Regions from separate parts of the Homo sapiens genome. Here region 1 is linked to region 2. Evidence: fine-mapped expression QTL. A gene starts in region 2. The other region holds a variant in brackets. All regions are shown on one strand. Distances are between the middles of the regions.

The links.
Region 1: its variant is fine-mapped to the expression of AIF1L in substantia nigra (GTEx, PIP 0.93).

The regions. Positions count from the first base shown.
Region 1 is chr9:131,050,662-131,058,661 of GRCh38, reverse strand. It overlaps LAMC3 (laminin subunit gamma 3), which reads right to left. Exons shown (of 28, transcript NM_006059.4): 10 at 5,979-6,171; 11 at 5,697-5,812; 12 at 1,515-1,733. Among named protein-coding and RNA genes, the nearest start is that of AIF1L, 42 kb to the left of the region's middle. RefSeq lists enhancers at 1-484, 5,792-6,991. The variant CTGT/T (reference allele first, on the strand shown) is at 4,817.
Region 2 is chr9:131,092,207-131,107,280 of GRCh38, reverse strand. AIF1L (allograft inflammatory factor 1 like) reads right to left here and starts at 10,750. Exons shown (of 6, transcript NM_031426.4): 1 at 10,621-10,750; 2 at 10,418-10,479. The coding sequence starts at 10,651. It overlaps LAMC3 (laminin subunit gamma 3), which reads right to left. Exons shown (of 28, transcript NM_006059.4): 28 at 12,808-15,074. It overlaps LOC124902289 (a long non-coding RNA gene), which reads left to right and starts at 13,909. Exons shown (of 3, transcript XR_007061825.1): 1 at 13,909-14,005. RefSeq lists enhancers at 4,010-4,929, 9,914-10,413, 12,454-12,955, 13,753-14,349, 14,350-14,948 and 1 more.

The DNA.
Region 1 (8,000 bases), 45 kb after region 2:
TCAGCCTCCCAAAGTGCTGGGATTACAGGTGTGAGCCACCACGCCTGGCTACCGTCTTTTCAGGAAGAAAAATGCCCAGCAGCCTTCTTCTCAGACAGCCCCCACCTGCTCTGGGGAGGCAGCAGGTGTCTAGGCATGAAGCCGTCAGTGTGGGAGTGGAAGAGGTCTGAGTCCAGCCTTCTCAGGTGCCTCCTGGCCATGTGACCTTGAGCAAGGCCAGGTCTGCTCCTATAAAAGTGGGGATCAGTTGGCCAGGCGTGGTGGCTCACGCCTGTAATCCCAGCACTTCGGGAGGCTGAAGCAGGAGGATCACTTGAAGTTAGAGGTTTGAGACCAGCCTCAACATGGTAAAACGCCATCTCTACTGAAAATATAAAAATTAGCCGAGGATGGTGACAGGCGTCTGTAATCCCAGCTACACAGGAGGCTGAGGTGGGAGGATCTCTTGAACCCAGCAGGAGGCTGCAGTGAGCCAAGACTGCACCACTGCACTCCAGCATAGGCAACAGAGCGAGACTCTGTCACCCCCCACAAAAAATAAAAAATAAAACATAAAATAAAATAAAAAGAAGTGAGAATGAGTAGCCAGCAGCAACCAGGCCTCAGGAGTCCAGGCTGGAGGGAGGCACGGCTCTGCCACCTGCTGGCCATGCATCTGCACTGCAGCGTGGGGCCTTCACCTGTGAGATGGGACAGGAAGGGTCCCGGCCCCGCAGGGATGTCTGCAGGAGTCAATGATATAGTGTAGAGAAGGTGACTAGCACATGCAGGAACCTGGTGACACTATTTTATTATTTCCCAAGTGTCCTGAAAAGTAGAGACTTTCATTATCTGCGCTTCCCTAAGGCATTCCCAGTTAGCTATGGCTGAGCTCCTATGCAACCCAGGCCTGTGTTTTCAGAGCCTGAGCGTCTCCTGACCACCATATGGCTTTGTGTAGAAACAGAAGCAGTGTATATACTGTCATTATCTCCACCTTACAGAAGAGGAAGCAGGCTCAGGGAGGGAAGTGACTTTCCCATGGCCACTAAGGGGTGAGGGTGGCAGGTCTGTGGTTCTGGGTTGGTGCCTATGAGCTGCTGTCACCTGTGTGACCTTCTTGAGAACCCTCCTGCTGTCACCTGCCATGCTGGTGCCTCTGCCCTTCCTCACAGCACCCTCTGCATGTAAAGACCCCTGAGGTCTTTCCCTGGTCCTTCCTGGGAAAAGGGCCAGCCCAGGGAGAAGGTGGCGCGGACAGATGGCCCACAGAGCAGCTGGCTTATGGTTATCACCTGATACATACAAAGTCCTTGGCACAGAGCCTGAGGCTTCAACAAATTCCAGTAGTAACTTTTATTAAACTATGAGGTGCCCAGGCACTGAGCAGCACGGGAAAGCTCAGTGCCCGCACTGCCCCACAGCTTGGCCAACACCTCAATGCCTGTGCCAGGCTGGCCCTGTTCAGGTCAGTACTCATCCCGCTGTTTTGGGTATAACCCAGGTGCCTTCGGATGGGGTGCCAGGAGACTCACCTGTGTTGGGGTCACAGGTGCCATGCTGGTTACAGGTGCAGGGGACACAGCTGGCATAGGGACCCCCCTGTGGCATCTCCCTCTTGTATCCCGGAGCACAGGATTCACAGAACTGGCCCGTGTAGCCAGTGGGACATGAACAAATCTCCACCCAGGAGGCTGGCGGGGAAAGCCCTGGCCGGGCGGATGTGAGCCGGACCTCAGTCAGGAACACTGGACCTGCAGAGCGAGAAGGGAGAGAGGAAGAGAGGAGGCACAAGCTCCCTGCACATGCTTCCCCCCAAAACCTTCCTGTTCACATATGGACCAGGCCCACGTATATAAAGGCAGACTAGCAATCAATGATTTTTCTTTTTTTGAGACAGATTCTCATTCTGTCACTCAGGCTAGAGTGCAGTGGTGCAATCATAGCTCTGTAGCCTCGACTCCTAGTCTCCAGTGATCCCACCATGTCACCCTCCCAAGTAGCTGCGACTACAGGCAAGACACCAAGCCCAGCTAATTTTTAAAATTTTTGTAGAGATGGGGTTTCTCCATGTTGCCCAGGCTGGTCTTGAACTCCTGGCCTCAAGTAATCCTCCTGCCTTGGCCTCCCAAAGTGCTGGGATTGCATGTGTGAGCCACTGCGCTGGTTGATTTTTATTTTTATTTTTCAAATTGTCAATTCAAGGGTAAGGGAGATGATTAGGCAATTTTCAAGAAGAAATAGATATGGCTGAGAATTTTATGGAAAGATATCCATCCACAGGTTATTAACGATATATAGATTTAAACAACGATGATACCATTCACATCTCTCAGACTGGTAACATTTTATAGATGAATTTTAGTGGAGGATGGCGTGTAGGAAACTCACCTGGGCTACTCATAACTGAATGCTACATTTAGGCAAAGTTTAAGGTCTATTTCTAAGGTTTTAAGATTTTTCTTGTTGTTTTGGTTGTTTTTAAGAGAGACAGAATCTTGCTCTGTCACTCAGGCTGGAGTGCAGTGGTACAACCATAGCTCACTGCAGCCTTGAACTCCTGGCCTCAAATGATCCTCCTGCCTCAGCCGCTCAAGTAGCTGAGACCAAAGGTGTGTGGCACCACACCCAGCTAATTTTTTAAATTTTTTGTAGAAAAACGGTTTCGCCTTGTTGTCCAGGCTGGTTTTGAACTCCTGGCCTCAAGGACTCCTGTCTCAGCCTCCCAAAGTGCTGGAATTACAGGCTTGAGCCACCACGCCCAGCCTAAAGTTCTAAGTGTTATAGGAGATTTTGAGACTAATGAATGTAACAGGATTTTGATGTAAAAGAAGCTAATTGACACAGAAATGTCAGTGACATTTCTTACCTGCAAGGAAAGTGAACATCTTGTATTTAGATCAACTATAATGTGTACATTTTAAAAATAAAGAAATCTGATATTTGGAAAAAAAAATGGGCCGGGCGCGGTGGCTCGAGCCTGTAATCCCAGGACTTTGGGAGGCTGAGGCGGGCGAATCATAAGGTCAGGAAATCGAGACCATCCTGGCTAACACGGTGAAACCCCGTCTCTACTAAAAAATACAAAAAATTAGCCGGGCGTGGTGGCGGGCGCCTGTAGTCCTAGCTACTCGGGAGGCTGAGGCAGGAGGATGACATGAACCCGGGAGGCGGAGCTTGCAGTGAGCAGAGATCATGCCACTGCACTCCAGCCTGGGTGACAGAGCAAGACTCCGTCTCAAAAAAAAAAAAAAAAAAAGAAAGAAAAGAAAAAAGAGTGTGGATGTACGAATACTAATCAGAAGGTTTTGCTTCCAGTAACAGAGGAGCAGGGGATCCTGGCAGATCAACCTTCCCACAGAAAACAACTATAAACTCTGGGCAAAATATGAAAATGACCATCTGTAGACACAGAACAGGGAGACTGGAGGCGGCCGACACTCCTCATCAGAGCAGCCTTTCTGAAGGAAAATTTGGCAGTGTGGATCAAAATGGAAAATGCTCCCTCTTTGACCTAACATCTCCATTTCCAGCACTCTGTCCTAAAGCGACACTTATACTGGAATACCAAGACCTTTCTATGAGGCTGGTCCCTATTCCCTGTGACACGGTTGTAATGGGGAAAACTGGAGGCCACTTAAGCGCCTGTCAATAGGGGGATGGCTAAAACCTCACAGAGCACCCATACCACAGAATCTTACACACCAGACACAGAAAACCAGGCTTTCTACGCGTAATGACAAGGAACAACCTCCACGACGCACTGTTAGCTGACAAAAAGCAAGTCCCAGAATATCGTACTGTGTGATTACCTTTCTTTCTTTTCTTTTCCCTCCCTTGCTCCCTCCCTCCCTTCTTCTTTCTTTCTCTCTCTCTCACTCTCTCTCTCTCTTTCTCCCCCTCCCTTCCCCTCTCTCTTTCTTTTTCTTTCTTTCTTTGAGACAAGGTCTGGCTCTGCTACCCAGGCTGGAGTGCAGTGGCATGATCTTGGCTAACTGCAACCTCCGCCTCCCAGGTTCAAGCAATTCTCCCTCCCGAGTAGCTGGGATTACAGGCACATGCCACCATACCCGGCTAATTTTTGTATTTTTAGTAGAGATGGGGTTTCACCATATTGCCCAGGCTGGTCTCAAACTCCTGAGCTCAAGTGATCCGCCCGCCTCAGCCTCCCAAAGAGCTGGGATTACAGGCGTGAGCCACCACGCCCGGCTGTGTAATCACATTTCTATGTTTTTAAAAAAATACAGATGTTAAGTACGTACACACAGAAAGGTTTAGAGAGAGGCCTCCCAAAACATTACCCATGGAAAGAGGAAGTTTGGGGATTGCGGGTGCTGGGGAGGGTCGCTATGTCCTCTGCTTCTCCAGGGCATCCCAGCACCCTTGGACTCAAAAGAGGCCCAGGGGAAGACTGACCCTCTGAGCCAGAGGTCCTCAAAAAGAGCAAAATCTCCCTCCCCTGGAAGCAAATCTGAGGACATGTTGGTTGTCATGTGGATGAAGAGGCCTAAAGTTCCCAGAAATTGACATTCCCAGAAACTCCCCACATGACTTTCAAATGTCCTGCGTGGTGCTGGAAGGGTAGAAAAACCCCTTTGTAAACATCTGAGCCTAGAGCTCAGCTTCATTTTACACACATACACTAGGGGTTTTGTTTTTTGTTTTGTTTTTTTTTTTTTAGAGACAAGGTCTCGCTTTGTCACCCAGGCTGGAGTGCAGTGGCACAGTCACTACAGTCTCAACCTCCTGGGCTCAAGCGATCCTCCAGTCTTAGTCTCCTGAGTAGCTGGAATTACAGGTGCAGACCACCCCACCAGACTGTTTTTTGTTATTGTTG[CTGT/T]TGTTGTTTTGAGATGGAGTCTGGCTCTGTCGCCCAGTCTGGAGTGCAGTGGCGCAATCTTGGCTCACTACAACCTCCGCCTCCTGGGTTCAAGCGATTCTCCTGCCTCAGCCTCCCAAGTAGCTGGGATTACAGGTGTGTGCCACCACGCCCAGCTAATTTTTGTATTTTTAGTAGAGGTGGGGTTTCACCATCTTGGCCAGGCTGGTCTCAAACTCCCGACTTCATGATCCACTCGCCTTGGCCTCCCAAAGTGCTGGGATTACAGGCGTGAGCTTCTGCGCCCGACCTATATTGATTTTTAAAATAGCGTGTGGGTAGAGGTTCTAATGAGGAACAGATCAGAGGCTAAGGCTGTCAATCACTGTGACCAGGGTGGGAGGTGGTGACAGACCCCCATCAATGATGTGTGATGGCTTGGCCCCCTCTTTGGGAAGACCAGACCCTCCTAGGGTGGCTTAGGTACAATACCGCCAGTGACCAGCAGGGGAGTCACTCTGCCAGGGGACTCCTGGACTGCCGGCTGTGGGCTGTGTCCAGCGGGGACAGGGGGCTTGGTGGATCCAGTGAAGGTGGAGTGAGCACACCCAGCGGGTCTGGGTGGCTTGCTGGCCGCACACCTGCCTCTGAGGCCCATCCTTCAGGCCTCTCTCCTGTCCATTCCCTGCATCTGACCTCAGCCACCATCCCCATTGCCTTCACAGGTTATATGGCCTCTGGCAACTGTCCTGACTTTTGACTAAGGTTCCTTCTTGGCAAAACAGGACAATAACCACCCGGCCGCAAGGCCCTGACAAGACTGTGACCGCCGGAGCCCAGCCCAGTTCTGAGACCTGGCAAGCACTCGGGTCTTGGGCATGTGGTTGTCTTTACTGACCGGCAGGGCTGGGGCCGGGACTGACGCGGAGGCGGAGGCTGGTCAGGTTGGCGAGGAGCCGCTGGAAGTGGAAGGGGGGCAGTGGAGGGGCCACGTCCTCGGAGGTCTCCTGCAGGCTGGCGAGAGAAGCGGTCAAAGTGAGATCCCGACATAGGGTGGGGGGGTACCATGCCTGGGGATGGGGGGTAGCCCCCCAGACTACAGGGGCATCTGAAATGTGCCCGGACCTCAGAGACCACCCCTCTCACCTCCCCATCTCTCAGGACAGAAGGGGATACTTACTGGAACCTGAGCTCTACCTCCCTGGGATGCCCGGCATCCTGGGGGCCAGACAGGCTAGAGTGCCTCAGGGACAGGGCCAAGCCTGTCCCTTCCAGCCTCAGCTGTACAGGGAGTGGGGAGTCCCCGGGGGGCACCCGGAAGGTCAGTATGAGGGGCTGCCCATAGCTGAACCGCTGGTCTCCCAGGAACTTCTCTGAAGACAAGAGAAGAAGGCTTTGACAGTCTTCATATGGTTAGCTTGATTTTAAATGTCTATGTTGATTTTATCGGCAACTAAACATTCAAAAAAGATAAAAGTGCAGTGGGTAGAAAATCAAAAGCTTCCTGCACAGCAGACCCTGCAGGGGGCCCACCCACACCTCTGCAGTCACACACGCCCCCACACTTGGCTTCATGCTCTGCTGTGACCATCTTCACATTCTTAATAATTTTATCTTTGAACTTGGGTTTTAGAAGTGACGTCCGATGGAACACGGAGTCCGAGGGTGAACGGAGGGGATACACACACGTGTGACCAGAGAGGCTGCCGTCTGCTCATGTGTAGCATTCACGATGCCCATGAGCACGAAATTCCTAGGGAACACCCAGCAGCAGGAGTTTAGCGGGACCTCCAGGTGACAGCAAGGTAAGTGAGCTGGCTGAGTGAGCAGAGGTGCTCTGGGCCCCGGGCCATGCTTTCCCTTCCAATCAGAACTTGCCCTGAACTCGGAAAGAAGGCACTAGTTTTCTGAGACACGAACCACCAAGCGCTGTGCGGTACCTTCTGACTCATGTCATTTCACTGCATCAGCCCATCATTTCTTCAGAAGTTCGTGACCCAGGAGGAAAGGACACAGGCCACCCTCCCTCCTCCTTTCCCAGTACCCTCCCTCCTCCTTTCCCAGTGGTCTTTCCCTTACCCGTGAGAAAGCCACAGAGGTGTGCCATGTTGGTGGAACATGCGTGTGTCAAGGAGTGAAATAAAAGTGGCTGGGCTTGTTGTGTGCAGTATTTCCACTGTCCTCGTAAGAACAAAATACGCAGCCTGGCATTGTGGCTCACGCCTGTAATCCCAGCACTTTTGGAGGCTGAGGCGAGTGGATCACAAGGTCAGGAGTTCAAGACCAGCCTGGCCAAGATGGTGAAACCCCATCTCTAGTAAAAATACAAAAAATTAGCCGGGCATGGTGGTGGGTGCCTGTAATCCCAGCTACTCAGGAGGCTGAGGCAGGGAATTGCTTGAACCCAGAAGGCAGAGGTTGCAGTGAGCCAAGACCACGCCAATGCACTCCAGCCTTGGCAACAGAGCAAGACTCCGTCTCAAAAAAAAAAAAAAAAAGAATGGTAAAATTCATGCTAATAACTTTATATGTTTCATGCTAATAACTTAAAATTTTCCTTTACCTAGAATGGCATCAAATAGCAAACCAAAAAACACCATGACAAATAAAGGGCAAAACTGCAGGGGAAAAAAAGTGTTTATATTTTAGTACCTTTAATAGTACTTCCCCCTATTTGGGAACTGGGGGGGTGGGATTTTAATTCTGCAGTGCATCCCTCAAATTCTGTAGCGCGCCCCGCCACAGCTTTGGTGGACAGCTCCCGAAACACTGAAAGTCCCTGTGTCCCTCTGCCCCAGAGCGTTTCCTGGCTGGGGGAATTTCTTACCTGTGCAGAAGCGGCCTGAAGCGGGGAGCCCCGGGAGCTGGTGGCCACATGCCCCGGCTGCACTCCGATTCGGCCTCCAGAATCAATCACCAGCACGAGCGCAATGCTCCCCTCCCATCCTTTGCTACTCACGTTCTACACGTGAGATGGTTTCACACACTGTTCCACAACCGGCCGCATCACAGTCCACCAACAGGCTACCCAGCCCCTCCTGGGACTGCCCCAAGCTTGCACCATTAAATACTCTTTTTTTTTTTTTCCTTTTTTTGGAGATGGAGTCTCACTCTGTCGCCCAGGCTGGAGTGTAGTGGTGCAATCCTGGCTCACTGCAACCTCCATCTCCCAGGTTCAAGCAATTCTCCTGTCTCAGCCTCC
Region 2 (15,074 bases):
ATGAAGAGCAAGGCCACGTGCACAGCATGAACGGCAGCAGTGGTTGGGAAGATTGCCCTGGGCTGCACCCTGCACTAGCTGTGCACCCTGCCTGGAGTCCACAGATCTGCGTGGTTCTCTCCCTCACCAACTTCAAGCCTTTGCTCAATGTCACCTTGTCTTTTTTGTTTTGTTTTATTTTTGTTTTTTGGGACGGAGTCTCACTCTGTCGCCAGGCTGGAGTGCAGTGGCGCGATCTCAGCTCACTGCAACTTCCCCCTCCCGAGTTCAAGCAATTCTCCTGCCTCAGCCTCCCCAGTAGCTGGGACTACAGGTGCGCACCAACACGTCCAGCTAATTTTTGTTTTAGTAGAGATGCGGTTTCACCATATGGAGCAGTTCGGTCTCAAATTCCTGACCTCAGGTGATCCGACTGCCTCGGCCTCCCAAATTCCTGGCATCACAGGCGTGAGCCACCACACCCAGCCTCAATGTCACCTTCTCAATGCGGCCGAATGTCACCTTCTCAATGCGGCCGACCCTATTTATTCTTTGTTGGCACGATCACAGCTCACTGCAGCCTCGACCTGCCTGGGCTCAAACAATCCTCCCACCTCAGCCCTCCAGAGCAGCTAGAACTACGGGTGTATGCCACCACACCCAGCTAATGTTTGTATTTTTTGTAGAGATGGGGTCTCCCTCTGTTGCCCAGGCTGGTCTTAAACTCCTGGGCTCAAGTGATCTGCCTGCCTCGGCCTCCCAAAGTGCTAGGATTATAGGTGTGAGCCACCATGCCCAGCCCTGTCCACCCTGTTTTATACTGCTGCCTGCCCACTTCAGCTGCCCCGACTTCCAATCGCCCTTATCCAGCTCCTTAGGATGGGTCACCTCCAAACATGATTTCCACTGCCACTGCTTACTGAGGTTACTACACCCTCTCTGCCTCCCCGGCTAGAATGTAGGTTCCACATAGCAGACGCTCAATAAACATGTGCAGGATGAGTGGAGGAGTTGAGACTCAGGTTAACTAACTTGCCTGAAACAGCAGAGCCAGCAAGCAGCTGTGCTGGGAACATGAAATCCTCTGTAGCTGCGGCTCCCTCCCTGCACAGTACTGAGGAGGAAGTGGGTATCAGGAGGCAGCTCGGAGGAGGCAGGGCCCCAGCCACAGGTTTAGCGTCGAAGTGCCCAGCATATCGTAGACACTCAATAAACATCTGTTGAGGAGCCCGAGGAGGGAGGATCACTTGAGGCCAGAAGTTTGAAGTCAGCCTGAGCAACATAGGGAGATCCCATCTCTACAAAAAATTAAAAAATTAGCTGGGTGTGGTGGTGCGTGCCTGTAGTCCCAGCTACTTGGGAGGCTGAGGCTGGAGGATCACTTGAATCCAGGAGGTGAAGGCTGCAATGAGCTTTGACTGCACCACTGCACTCCAGCCAGACCCTGTCTCTAAAAAAAAAAAAAAAGCAACAACAACAACAACAAAACATCCATTGAATGAATGGACAGGCCTGCCATTCGGTCCATTATTTTCTCCATCCTCACCCCTGCAACGATCAGGCAGCTTTGCAAAAGTGTGTGCCCACGCATGACAGAGGCTGGAGGGGCTTAGGGTTTGGAATCCTATTTTTCCTTAGAGCCAAAAATGACAAATGCAGCCCAGTGTGGTGGTTCACGCCTGTAATCCCAGCACTTTGAGAGGCCAAGGCAGGCGGATCACCTGAGGTCAGGAGTTCAAGACCAGCCTGGCCAACATGGTGAAATCCTGTCTCTACTAAAAACCACACGTACCTGTAATCCCAGCTATACTTGGGAGGCTGAGGCAGGAGAATTGTCTGAACCCGGAATGTGCAGGTTGCAGTGAGCTGAGATCGCGCCACTGCACTCCAGCCTGGGCCACACAGTGAGACTTTGTCTTAAAAAACAAAACAAAACAAAACATGACAAATGCTTGGGCCACAAGTGACCAGGGTGGGAGAGGCAGCTGAGCTCCTCATGTGTGGGCAGCCCTCACTGGCTCTGGGATTAGGGCAGCTGTGCTGACCATGCCTGGGTAGGGGATGGGGGAGCCCGGCGGGCAGTGGCAGGAACAGGACTCCACCAGCCAGGCTGCCACGCCTGCTCCACCTCTGAGCTTTGGATTCTTGGTTCCTGCTCATGTACCACCCACAGCTCCCTCCCTGCAGGCATCCTCCCCCCGTCCCTGCCAAAGGCACAGGTACCCTGTCTTTCCAGGACCCCTGGCTGCCCTGACCCTGGGTCCATAGGCAGAGGAGACAGAGATAGAAGCCACCCCAGGTGTTTGGAAGAAAAGCAAAATAAAGAAAAAAAAAAGGCAGACTGGAGCCAGAATGCCTGAGTTTGAATCCACTTCATGGCTGCATGAATTTTTTTTTTTTTTTTGAGACAGAGTCTCGCTCTGTTGCCCAGGCTGGAGTGCAGTGGCACAATCATAGCCCACTGCAACCTCAACCTCCTGGGCCCAAGCAGTCCGCCCATCTCAGCATCCCAAAGTGCTGGGATTACAAGTATGAGCCACCGCACCCGGCCAGCAAATACTAAATAAATGTTAGCTGTTTATTATTTTTTTCTAATACTTATGCCCATACAATCAGCTTATAACCTCCATAGACCCTCACAGACTATTCAGCAGATTAGGAAGGAGGCCCCCTCCCCGTGGAGTAGGCCAGTTATGATTTCTCTCTCCTCTTTCCAGGTATCCCCATTTGACAGATGGGACAACTGAGGCCCAGAGAGGTTGCTCAACTTGCTCAGGATTGCCAAGTTTTAGCAATTCAAGGTCTATGCCTGCCCCAAACAAGAAGGTAGCCTGGCTGCAGGTTTCTGGGCAAAGAAAGTCAATACTGGGAGTTACCTTTCCTCTTCGGCAGCTGCAGGAGGTTATTCCAGAGGCCAGGGAACCACTTTATAGCCCTCCAGGGAGATGTGGGGGTAGGTGGTTTATTCTATCCCCTATCCTCCTCACACAATCTAACCCACTGTCCCCAAAGACAAGTTTTCCCGGCTGCAGAAAGTAGAAAGTGCTGGGGTGGGGGAGCAGGTGTGAGAAGTGCAGGGGGCCTCTGGGCCCTGAAAGTGGCTATTGACATGCAGAGGGGCAGGCCTGGAGGCCACAGTGGCCTGATCAGTCCCTAGCAAAGGGCCAGGAAATGCAAGCGGGCAGGAGCTGGGGGGTGACACACAGGCAGCTGAGCCCACTTTTCAGTCCCCGGGGACCAGAGCATCCAAGGCTGGGGCCTGGGAGGTGGCAGAGCTGTTAAATTATCCACCCAGCCACAGAACCAGAAGGGACTCCTCACAGCGTTCAGCTTGCCCTCCTTGTTCAATAGCTGGGGAAACCGAGGTGCCGGAAGGGACAGGCCTTGCCCAAGTTCACAACAGTTGAAAACGTCACATCATCTCTCTGAGCCCAGGGTGTGTAGGACATAGGGGATAACTTGCCAGGGTTGCCATTCCAGCTTTAGCACATACTAGCTCTGTGGCTCTGGGCAGGGCAACTTTACCTGTTTACCACTCTAGGCCTCAGTCTCTTCATCTATAAAGTGGGCTTATCTATCAAATGGGATCATAATGATATGCAGAACCTCCTCACTGAGTTGCTGTAAGGAATTTTTTTGTTTGTTTGTTTTGTTTTGAGTCAGGGTCTTGCTCCATTCCCAAGCCTAAAGTGCAGTGGCACGATCTGCAGGATCACTGCAGCCTCAACCTCACAGACTCAAGCTATCCTCCTGCCTTAGTGCCTGGCCTGCGGTAAGGATTAAACGAGCTAATTGCACAGAAGGAGCCTGGCTCCTAGTACACTTGCTAAGTGTTCAAAATTATTATTATGTCTTAGGATCATCCAAACTCAAGCCACATCGAGAGGCAGGTGTGTGTGCGGGGGAAGGGCAGGGAAAGAACATCACCCACCGACCATGCTGTGCTCCTCCGTGATGCCCTGAAGTCCTCCTGGCAAGTCTTGGCCCACTGGCCATCCCTCAAGGGCAAGTTTTGCTTTGTCCTCAGCCCCCGGCTGACCTGGCAGTGATGGGCCATCCAACCTGCCTGAACCCTCCCATCTCAGTCCCCAATAGCATCTGTTCACTGCCGCCTTTCCTGGTCACCTACAGCCTCTGATGCTCGCCAGAGTCCCCCAAGCCCATCCCAGCCTCCAGCGAGGCCCCCAAGTGCTATGCCCAGGAGGGGCTGTTTCCAAACCCATCAGAAGCTGGCAGCCCCTGCCGTGCCTGTCCTCAGAAGCCCTCCCACCTGCCTGCTCCTCGCTGACTTAACTCTCTTTCTGGGCTGGTACCTCTAGCACCTTCTGGCGAACCCTTGCTCCTGGCCCTCCAGGCTTGTCTTTCTGTATCAGCTGCAGCAGAATTTTGGGGTGGGCGGATATCACCATCTTGGAGGCCATCCAAGGGGCTGGTGGCTCAGGCCTTGGACAAGAACTCCAAGGACAGGAAGCACCATGCCGGGGCGTAGGACCTCTGACGCAGCCCACAGGCTCTTAAAGGGCCAGGGCCAGGCCACAAGTGGTGCTGGCACCTGGTGAGTAGCAGAAGCCTGTAATGTGCACCCACAAGGACAGCGGGTTCACATTCCCCACTGCAGCCCTGGGCCTCATTCAGATGCCGCATCCTCGCCAACAGATGGGGCAGCTAAAGAAAAACTCCCAAGCAGCTATGCAATAAAGCACACCCTGCAGAAATTCCATCTCCAGCTTCCTGTGACACGGCCACACCAAGGTCATAACTGGTTGGACCTGCAGGGGACACTGAATCCTCAGAGGCTCACGTGGCCACTTATCACCATCTCCCTTATAATATATTAAGGAAGAGCAAGAGAGGTGGGTGCCCAGCAATGCCAGCTGCATACATTCGCCTGGGCAGGGACAGAGTGGCACTGCCAGGTACATAGGAAAAAAGACACACCTGCATACTTGCCTGGGTCAGGTCTCAGAGGCCCCCCATTGCTGGGGGAAGGGCAGGGGATATATACACCCCTGGGCAGAGATACCCAGCCTACCCTGCCCAGCTGCCTTCCCAGTGCAGATGACATGTGGCTTCTGAAAAAAACATCAGGGGCCAGGTGCAGTGGCTCATACCTGCAATCCCAGCACTTTGGGAGGCCAAGGCGGGTGGATCACTTGAGGTCAGGAGTTCGAGACCAGCCTGGCCAACATGGTGAAACCCTGTCTCTACTAAAAATACAAAAATTAGCCGTGGTGGTGGGCACTTGTAATCCCAGCTACTCGGGAGGCTGTGGCAGGGGAATCGCTTGAACTTGGGTGGCAGAGGTTGCAGTGAGCCGAGATCATGCCACTGCACTCCAGCCTGGGTGACAGAGTGAGACTCTGTCTCAAAATGAAAAACAGCGAAACAAAACAAAAAACCATCAGGTACCTAAATGTGACAGGGAATGCTGAGTGCCCTTCATTCGACCCAGGAGGGCTGGACCATTGGGACAGTAGCCAGAGATCCTTATCGATATAAGCAAGAGAGGCCTGTGTCATAGCTAGGCTGCAGCCACCTGGTGACAGGGGCCAGGGTGACTGGGTTTGAATCCCAGATCTGCCACTTCCTGGCTGGGTGACCTTGCAGGTGACTTCATCTAGCTAAGCCTGTTTCCTCATCTCTAAAATGGAAGTCAAGGCCCGGCACAGTGATGTATGCCTGTAATCTCAGCACTCTGGGAGGCCAAGGTGGGCAGATTGCTTAAGCTTAGGAGTTCGAGACCAGCCTGGGCAACATGGTGAAACCTTGTCTCCACAAAAAAAAAAAATTAGCTTGGCGTGGTGGTGCACGCCTATAGTCCCAGCTACTCAGGAGGCTGAAGTGCAAGGATCACCTAAGCCCAGGAGGTCAAGACTGCAGTGAGCCGAGATCACACCACTGCACTTCAGCCTGGGCAACCCAGTGAGACCCTGTCTCAAAAAAAAAGGAGTCATGATAATCCTTATCCCATGGGGCTGTCTGCAGATTCTCACTGTGCATCTGTCTGCTGGGGTGCCCTGTTGCGGGGTCAGCGAGATGATGAATGTCAATCTGTGGGCATGGAGCACAGCCACAGCTCGTTACTGTGTTGAAGATCTCACCTGTTGGCCGGGTGTGGTGGTTCACACCTGTAATCCCAGCACTTTGGGAGGCCGAGGGGGGCGGATCACGAGGTCAGGGGTTTGAGACCAGCCTGACCAATATGGTGAAACCCCGTCTCTACTAAAAATACAAAAATTAGCCGGGCGTGGTGGTGCGCGCCTATAGTTCCAGCTACTTGGGAGGCTGAGGCAGAAGAATCGCGTAAACTTAGGGGGTGGAGGTTGCAGTGAGCCGAGATCACGCCACTGCACTCCACCCTGGGTGACAGAGCGAGACGCCGTCTCAAAAAAAGAAAGAAAGAAAAAAGACCTCACTTGCTAGCCAGCTCATGTGGCAGCCCTCACTGTCCCCTGAGCGCCTCCTGCTAAGTCCCAGGGCACAGCCACCCTGAGGGGCAGCGCCCCCAGCCCCACTCCTGCTTCTCTCTGTCCCTGTGGGAAGCTGGAGAAAATCTCTCCCATTGCCATATAAGGCCATGCCTGGCTGGCCTGGGGTCACCAACCATGCCATCAGGGCTCGGGGAATGCCAGCTATGTAGGGGGAGTAGGAGGTGCTGGCCAGTTCTGCCCACTCCAGTAGTGCTGCTATGTACACACGTGCGTGCACATACAAACACACAGCAAATGGAGCTGGGGGTGGACACGCAGCAGGAGGCCCAGCCAAGCTGAGCGATTGAGAAAATAGGCTGGGTTCAAGTCGAGGCTGTTTAAACCCAGGCAGTTTACCCAGCCTCTCTGAGTCTCGTTTTCTCAAAAATGGGAGCAACAATACTCCCTGGGTTAGAGAGAGCATTCGCAAGATAATGCCCACAGTGCACCTGGCACAGGACGGGCACATACCAAGTGTTCAGAAAACTACAGCAAAAACTAAAGTGAAACCAAAAAGAGGTGCATTTTCATGCGGCTCCCCCACCTCCCTTCCTCTACTGGGATTTCTAGGCCCATTAGAGTCTCCTATTTTTACTCTTGAATCCCTTATAATAACAATAGCTAAGGCAGGGTATGGGGGCACATGCCTGTAGTCCCAGCTACTTGAGAGGATGAGATGGAAGATTGCTTGAGCTGGGGAGGTAGAGGCTGCAATGAGCTGAGATTGGGCCACTGCACCCCAGCCTGGGCAACAGAGTGAGACCCTGTCTCTGTTAACAACAGCAACAACAAAAAGCTAAATTTGGGCGGGGTGGGGTGGCTCACGCCTGTAATCCTAGCACTTTGGAAGGCTGAGGCGGGCAGATCACCTGAGGTCAGGAGTTCGAGACCAGCCTGACCAACACGGTGAAACCCTGTCTCTACTAAAAACACAAAGATTAGCTGGGCGTGGTGGCAAGCGCCTGTAGTCCCAGTTACTCGGGAGGCTGAGGCAGGAGAATCGCTTGAACCCGAGAGGCGGAGGTTGCAGTGAACTGAGATCACGCCACTGCACTCCAGCCTGGGTGACAGAGACTCTGTCTAAAAAAAAAAAAAAAAAAAAGCTAAGGCTGAGCTACCCTGCCCCTCTGGAAGCTGGCCTACACCAAGGGAGGAGAAAGGCCCCAAAGGGAACTAGGTATCGGCCCAGAGAAGCCCCTAGATCTGCCAGCCAAGCTGGGCTGTGCCCCAGGCAGCAGCCATGGCGGTGCCCAAGCTGCCTGGCACAGAAGCAGGGCTTTGGCAGTGAATCCTGGGCTTAGCCCAGGCCCCCAGAATCCACACTCCAGTGGGGCAGTGAAGCTGCACCCCAAAGGAAGGCAGTCCGGGCTGCCAGCACAATTCTGCCTACAATCCACCTAGCTCAGGCCCTCTGCACTGCCCCCATGGCCGTGGGTGAACCAATTCAGACTCTCACACAGAGTGACTCCCCCACAGTCTGCAAAGAGCTTCCATCCACTTCCATCGGTTAATTGTTGCAGGGACTCCAGAGGGGCAGAGATCCCTGCTCCCATTTCAGGCTGGGGAAGACGAGGTTCTGCTGGGCTGAGCAACCAGCATGAGCCAGGGCGGAGTATCTTCCACTCCCTGCACCTTGAGGCCACGAACAAAGAAACTGTCCTGATAGCTATCAGGGCCGCAGCCAGCTCTCCTGGGTGCTTTACATAGATTGTCTCACTGAAAAAATCACAACCATTATCTTTTTGGAGAAGGAGGCTCAGAGAGGTGAGTGGCTTGCCCAGAGTCACAGATCAGTGCTTGTGGGTACCTCATGACTAAACTGGTGGGGCCACCCTGCTCCACTGTGGTGAAGCAGCTCAAGCTTCCCGTGTGATCCTGGCGCCTCCTTCCTACAGGGCCCCAGATCCTGGGCCTCAGCAGCCCTACAGCGGCTGGGCTGTCATGGTGGGTCTCAGTACAGCGTCTTGGCAGGGGAAGGACGCTGGGCTGCAAGCTCTGTCACTGGCTTCTGCGTGGCCTTGGGTCAGCTGCTTGCCCTCTCTGGGCGCTGTCCTGAGGTGGTTAGACCACAGCTCCTTCCTGCTCACTTTCCCTAGTCCCAGTGCTGCCCAGATCAGCCCCTGACAGCTGTTAAAGTCCCTCCTCTTTCTAAGCCAAGCTAGTCGGTTTCCCAAAACAACCCTGGAGCCGCCCCCTCCCCCAACCCACCTCCCCAAGGGCTAGGTTGGCCCCGCCCTCTTAGCTCTTCTGGCTTGTCCAACCATGGTCACCTCACCCCCATCTCCAGCTGTCTGTGGCTCAGGGTCCCGCTGGCTGTGGGTGGCTCCAGCCAGCTCAGAACCCGCCTGGCCAAGTGACCCAGGGGGCTATATGAGGTCGGGGTTCCAGCCTTCTGTCCAGAGGGCTAGAGCAGCCAAGCCCCAGGCTGGGCAGGCACACAGTGATCTGGGAAGGAGCCCAGCAGGGATCCGAGACCCCTGAGCACCCCAGCCAGATGTCCGGGCAACCTTCCAGTTGTGCTCAAGATGCCCCCAGGAAGCAGGGTGAGGGTGGCGGTGAGGAGGCCGGAGCTTACCTGGAGGGGGAACCCTGAGGTCCCCAGAGCCCTGTAGCTGGGGACCGAATGGGAGTCCTGTAGCCAGCGGATGGAAAACAGACAGGCTGCCTACATCCAAGCAGTCCAAGAAAACCAAGGGGGAATCAAGGCTGCACACTGCTGGCAAGAGGCAATACCACAACCTGGCCCCAGGCTCGGACCCGCCTCCCACAGCCTTCTCGGGCTCTGCTGACCTCACCAGCGGCCCACTTCCAGACTGTCAGCTGGGCTTAGACCCTGGGTGTCCAGGGGACCAGAGGAGCCTGCAGGGGGAATGCCAAGCCTTGTTTCAGCGGGCGTGCCTCTGCCACCAGTTAAGAAGGAAACTGGGAGACATCCACCTCAGGAAATAATGCTAGTTCTGTGAGTGCTTCCTGAATGCTGGGTGCTGGGCCATGCAGGCCACGGGCCTTCCCTCTCTGAGCCTGCACAATGCCCTGCTTGGAGATGAGAGGCCCTTTGCTGAGGACCACAGAGCTGGCACACAGTGGAGGCCAGATCTGAGCCCAGGTCTTGCAGAACTTTAAAGCCACTGGCTGTGCTGCCTTTGAGCTTTGGCCAACCCAGACAGGTCCTGATATCTTTCCTTATCTTCTAGAATCTATGTAAATTTATGGAGCTCTCACTGGATGCCTGGCAACAACAGGAAAGATTTCTTTTGAGAAATCCACCAGGACCAGCAAGAAAAGCATTGAATCCCTTAAGGCAATCTTTCCTGAAAGTTGGAGTGAAGAGGAGTGGTGTGTTTGAGGGAGGCGGGAGGCTGGAGACCACGGGGAAGTGCCAGGATCTCTACGCCCATCAGAGTCTTCTATTTGTACTTTTGAATCCCTTATAACAACAATAGCTAAGGCCAGGCGTGGGGGCACATGCCTGTAGTCCCAGCTACTCGGGAGGATGAGGAGGGAGGACCGTTTGAATCCCAAAGGTGGAGGCTGCAATGAGCTGAGATTGGGCCACCGAACTCCAGCCTGGGCGACAGACCAGCAAATGACCCGGAGCCTGTGTTCTGAGCTGGAGAGATCACTGGCCTAGGGCCCTTCCCGCGCCAAATCCTTGGGCTGCTCCCAAGCGGGCTTGCGGGGAGCCACGAGCCGGCTGGCATCCGAGCTCCTGACCCGGCCCCACCTCCCCAGTCCCCAGTTGCAAGAGTAACAACTTGCAACCCGAGACCGGAGGCGGGAGGCGGAGGCGGACCTACCTGGAGTCGGAGGCGACGGGGCTGGGGGCGGAGGGAGGCACCTGAGGGAAGCCCAGGGGAAGGGAAGGAAGAGGGTAGATCTGGAGGCGGGCACGGCCTCGCGGAAGGAGAGGTGGCACCCGCGCAGCGCGCGGCTCGGGACTCGCGTGCTGCCCTGGGCGCGGGGCTTACCCGGTTGATCTCGGCCAGCCTCCTCTCCTGCCGGGCTTTGAGCAAGCCGAACGCCTTCCCTCCTGGAGGAGACAAAGAGGCGGCCTGGGAAGCGGGGTCCTCTTCGGGCCACGCGCCCCCGTCCCCGCCCGCTTCCCGCGCGCGGTGGACCCCGCGGTCCGCCCGGCGCGCACAGGTGGCTGCTCGGGGACGGCGGCGCCTACCTTGGAACCTGTTGCTGAGCTCGCCCGACATGGCGAGCGCGGGGCTCCCGCCGGCTCCAGGCTTCGCGGACGCGGCGAGGGACGAGGAGGAGGCACAGGCGCCTGGTCCGGGCTCCGGCTAGCTGCGTGTGGCCGCGGGACCGAGGGGCGGAGGAACGGCGCGGGCGGCCGACACACCCCTCCCTCCGCTGCCGGCCCCTCCCTCCCTCCCTCCCGCCTCGCCCCTCCCCTCCCGCCTCTCCCCTCCCCTCCCGCCTCTCCCCTCCCCTCCCGCCACCCGCTCCGCGGGCTTCAAAGCGGCTATTATGCGGGACGCTGAGCCCGCCGGCCGACCCCTCTGCTGGAGGACGCGGAAAGTGCAAAGCGCGGGGCGGCCGCACCCCTCCTCTCTGCCCCTCCCCGGACCTCAGCAAGTCCCTGCCACACAAATGAAATGCGAGGATCTTAGCATGAACTCCATGGGGTGGTTGTGAGGACCAAGTGCCGTCGGGGAGTCGGCGCTCAAACATCACTGCTGCCTTTGGGGCAGTGCGGCTGCTGTGACAACAGTGGCCCGTCAAATCAATTGGAATGAATTCGTGTCTTGTTAATAAAAGAGATTTCTTGGGCACTCACAGGCACTTTGCACCGTACACCAGTCATTTCATTCTCAAAACTCCATGAAATAGGACTTGGCATTCCCATTTCCAGAAGAGAAAAGTCAGGAAGCTGGAGCTGGGGCGCAAGGCCACCAGGAGGAAAGACCAGCCCATGACTCCAGGAAGAGCGGAGCTCAGGATGCAGGATAGGGTACCTGTGGCCAGGGTGACCATGAAGTCTAGTGTCCAAATCAGGACAGCCAGAGTCAAGGGAGCACTCCTCATAATGATGCTGGGCCACAGGCATAGACAGGCGCTGTCCAGGGCAGGCAGCGCTAGGAATGGCCCCACCGTGCATCTGACTCCTAGGGTAGGGACCCTGAGATCATCTTTCTTATTTATTTATTTTTTTCGAGGCAGAGTCTTGCTCTGTTGCCCAGAGCTGGAGTGCAGCGGCTTGATCTCGGCTCACTGCAACCTTCGCCTCCGGGTTCAAGTGATTCTCCTGCCTCAGCCTCCCAAGTAGCCGGGACTACAGGCACACACCACCACGCCCAGCTAATGTTTGTATTTTTAGTAGAGACGGGGTTTCATCATGTTGGCAAGGTTTGTCTCGAACTCCTGACCTAAGGTGATCCACCTGCCTCGGCCTCCCAAAGTGCTGGGATTACAGGCGTGAGCCACCACGCCCAGCCGAGATCATCATTTTTCTGTGGCTGTCCCTGGGGAGGGAAGTGCCCAGCAAGGGGCTAGGCAGAATGGGATGGGGCTGAGGTCAGGGCAGCAGTCCAGGGGGCAGGCCCCTCCTCCCCAGTAAGACCAGCGCCCACCTCTCCTAGCTGACGCTCCTCTGTCCACTCACCCAAGGGTTTGGATTTGGCCAAGCTGCATGACCTTAGGCGAGGCACTTGATCTGGCTGAGCTTCAGTCCCCTGATCTTCACAATGAAGTAACCCAGAACGCACTAAGCAGGGGCTTTTGTAACTTTGATGACTTGCTGGATGGTTTAAGCAGAGAGTAAAAGCTTAGCGTTACCACCCTTGGTGGATGGGAGCTGACTTAGGACAGAGCCCTCATAATGCACTTCCCTCTCCAGGCTCCAACAGCCTATTGCCCTGGCCGGTTGGGCTGGTTGGCTCCAGTCAGCCATCCTACAGGGCAGGGGCCACCCCACCTTCTGCTCAGCTGCTGGACTGCATTGCTAGCCAGATGTTCAACAGCTGCCGCATTCCACCCGGCAGCGGCCCCACCTCTGGGGCCAGAGAATAGATCAGCACATGCACCAGGCATGATCAGACTGCGTGAGTCACAACATGTCAGGCCCGAGTTCTCCACCCGTCGGGGATGCTGGGACTGAGCTGAGCTGGATCCCACGGCTTGAGTGGATAAAGGCTGAGTGCCAAGAGCAGGCACCAGGACGACTGTGTGCCATCGGCTGAGAAACTGGAGGGAGGCGGGAGGGGGACATCAGACCCTATCCCAGAGGTCTTGGAAGAACTCCATATTCTCGACATCACTTACACCAGACGCCAATCACCAAACTCACTGTGCAGCAGCAGCTCCCCCATCTTCGGCCTCTCCACCTCTGCCCAGACATCTAGGGACCAAGTCACTCCTAGCTCAGTTTAATCATGTCAATCCCCCACCGTAGCCTTGATTTTACAGTTTTCTGTGGAGGAGCACACCTCTTCTCTGAACACCATCTCCCATTAGGTTGGGGGGTGGCACCGGTCATCCATTATTGGCCTTAGATCCAGAGATCCTCATTATCCTGAACGGGGGTTGGTGGGACTTCACCTAAGCTGAGAAGCTGGAATCAGGACAGAGTCACCAGCTTGTCTCTTGCAAGCACTGGACCTGATGACATGTACACCTGGGGCCATTATGGGGGATGGCGGTAGGGGTGGGTGTCCTCTCCTATCAGGCACAAGAAAAACAAAGAAAGCCACTCTGCAAAGAGAAAAGAATGGGCCGGTTGCAGTGGCTCATGCCTGAAATCCCAGAACTTTAAGAGGCCAATGCAGGTATATCATCTGAGGTCAGGAGTTTGAGACCAGCCTGACCAACGTGGTGAAACCCTGTCTCTACTAAAAATACCAAAATTAGCTGGGCATGGTGGCAAGCACCTGTAGTCCTAGCTACTCGGGAGGCTGAGGCAGGAGAATTGCTTAAACCTGGGAGGTGGAGGATGCAGTGGGCAGAGATCATGCCACTGCACTCCAGCCTGGGCAACAGAGCGAGACTCCATCTCAAAAAAAATCAATAAATAAAGAGAAAAGAACGAAGCAGATACAGGAGAGGAGAGCAGAGACACAGACCAAGAAGAGAGGCGGGAGGGGGGAAGAGGGAAGCCAACCTATCCCGGAAGCCTCAGGCTCCCCTCCCTAGGCTATCTCCAACACGTGGCAGCCGTTTTTACTCCAGGGTTCCAAGCGACCCTCCCAACACCCCTTTTCTGCTGAAACCACCTCAGGAGGGGTTTGAGGCCTGCGGCCAAGAGCCCTGACTGAGCAGCTCCAACATCCCACCCCATTCAACCTGGGGTCCTGGAGTGATGCAAGCTGGCCGAGCCCCAACCCTGCGGGCCCCGGACTGTTGTCCACCCTCTTGCCTGGAATGCTTCCTTCTCTGCCTCCCCACCCTTCAAGGCCCCACCCACACCATCCCCCTCCTGGATGGCGCCCCTCCCTGCTCCTCACCATCCTCGGACACTTGGCTGTGAGTTCGTCTCGAGCCTGAACCAGAGGTCAGCTGAGGGCCTCTCCGCACCCCACCCCTCCAACTCACCAGCTCCTAGGCTTTACGTGGTAAGTGCCTGAGAGGACAGGGTAGGTACCTGTGATCACACAACCCCAGCAAAGCCCTCTAATGGGAGGTACTGGCCCAGCCACGAGCTCGGCTTTTGCCACCTTCCTACCAACGTCCGGTCCACATGCTGGCCACCTACTAGGTGTGTCATATGCACACCCACAGCCAGGGCCCTGGCTGCCCACCAGCCGGGGAGGGTGAGGCACACCACCCTGCCCAGTGAAAGGGTCCTTTATTTCCACGTTCAACGGAATTGGTCTGTGCTGCTGCCCTACCCCTGCCCCTGTCAGGGGAGCCACGGGAGGGGGCTGGGCCCGCAGAGGTGCCTGACTTCCCAATGCCGAGGCCTTGCCATCTGCTGGAAGAGGGTCTGGGAGAGGGGAGGGATGCCAAGAGGAAATGCTGAGGAGTCCTGGGCAGAGGCCAGCATGCGGGCCTGGCCACAGGGCGATTCCCAGACAGGACAGACTGGAATGGCAGCCAGGCTTGCACACCCTGGTGGCCTCCCGCATGGCAAGTGGTGCCGCAGGGCTGGTCTGGAAAGCGTCAATTAAAGGTCAACTGGGTTGCCGGGGGCACAGAGGCGTGCTCCTGGTAGCCTGAGCACCCTGACCTAGGCGCTTTTGGGCCTGGCTCTTTGGATAGATCACAGGCTGAAGTGGGTACAGGCCAGGGTGGGCCATTCCCTCAGGGCATCTGGTGCAGTCCCAGGACCCTGAGAGGGAAGCGTCCGGTGAAGGCAATGACACCCCCGCCAGGAATGGGCCTTGCTCTAGCCAGACTAGCAGGCCTGGCCACGGCCTCAGGGTCTCTGGGCCTCAGATTCTGCTGCTAAGAACCCTCCCGGGATCTTGCATTTCTTGGCCTGTTGGTCCCCTGGCTGTGTCGAGCTGTAGGGAGTGCACGCAGCAACACAGGTCAGGGAGCTGCTGTGAAACAGAGGGCAGCCAGCTCTGGGACTAGGGGCTTTGGCTGTTGCTGACCCCCTTGATCTCTGCAGATCTGCTGAGACCTCCCTGCTATCTGGAGTGAGTGGATGTAGCACCCCAGGGCATCTCATGTAACAAC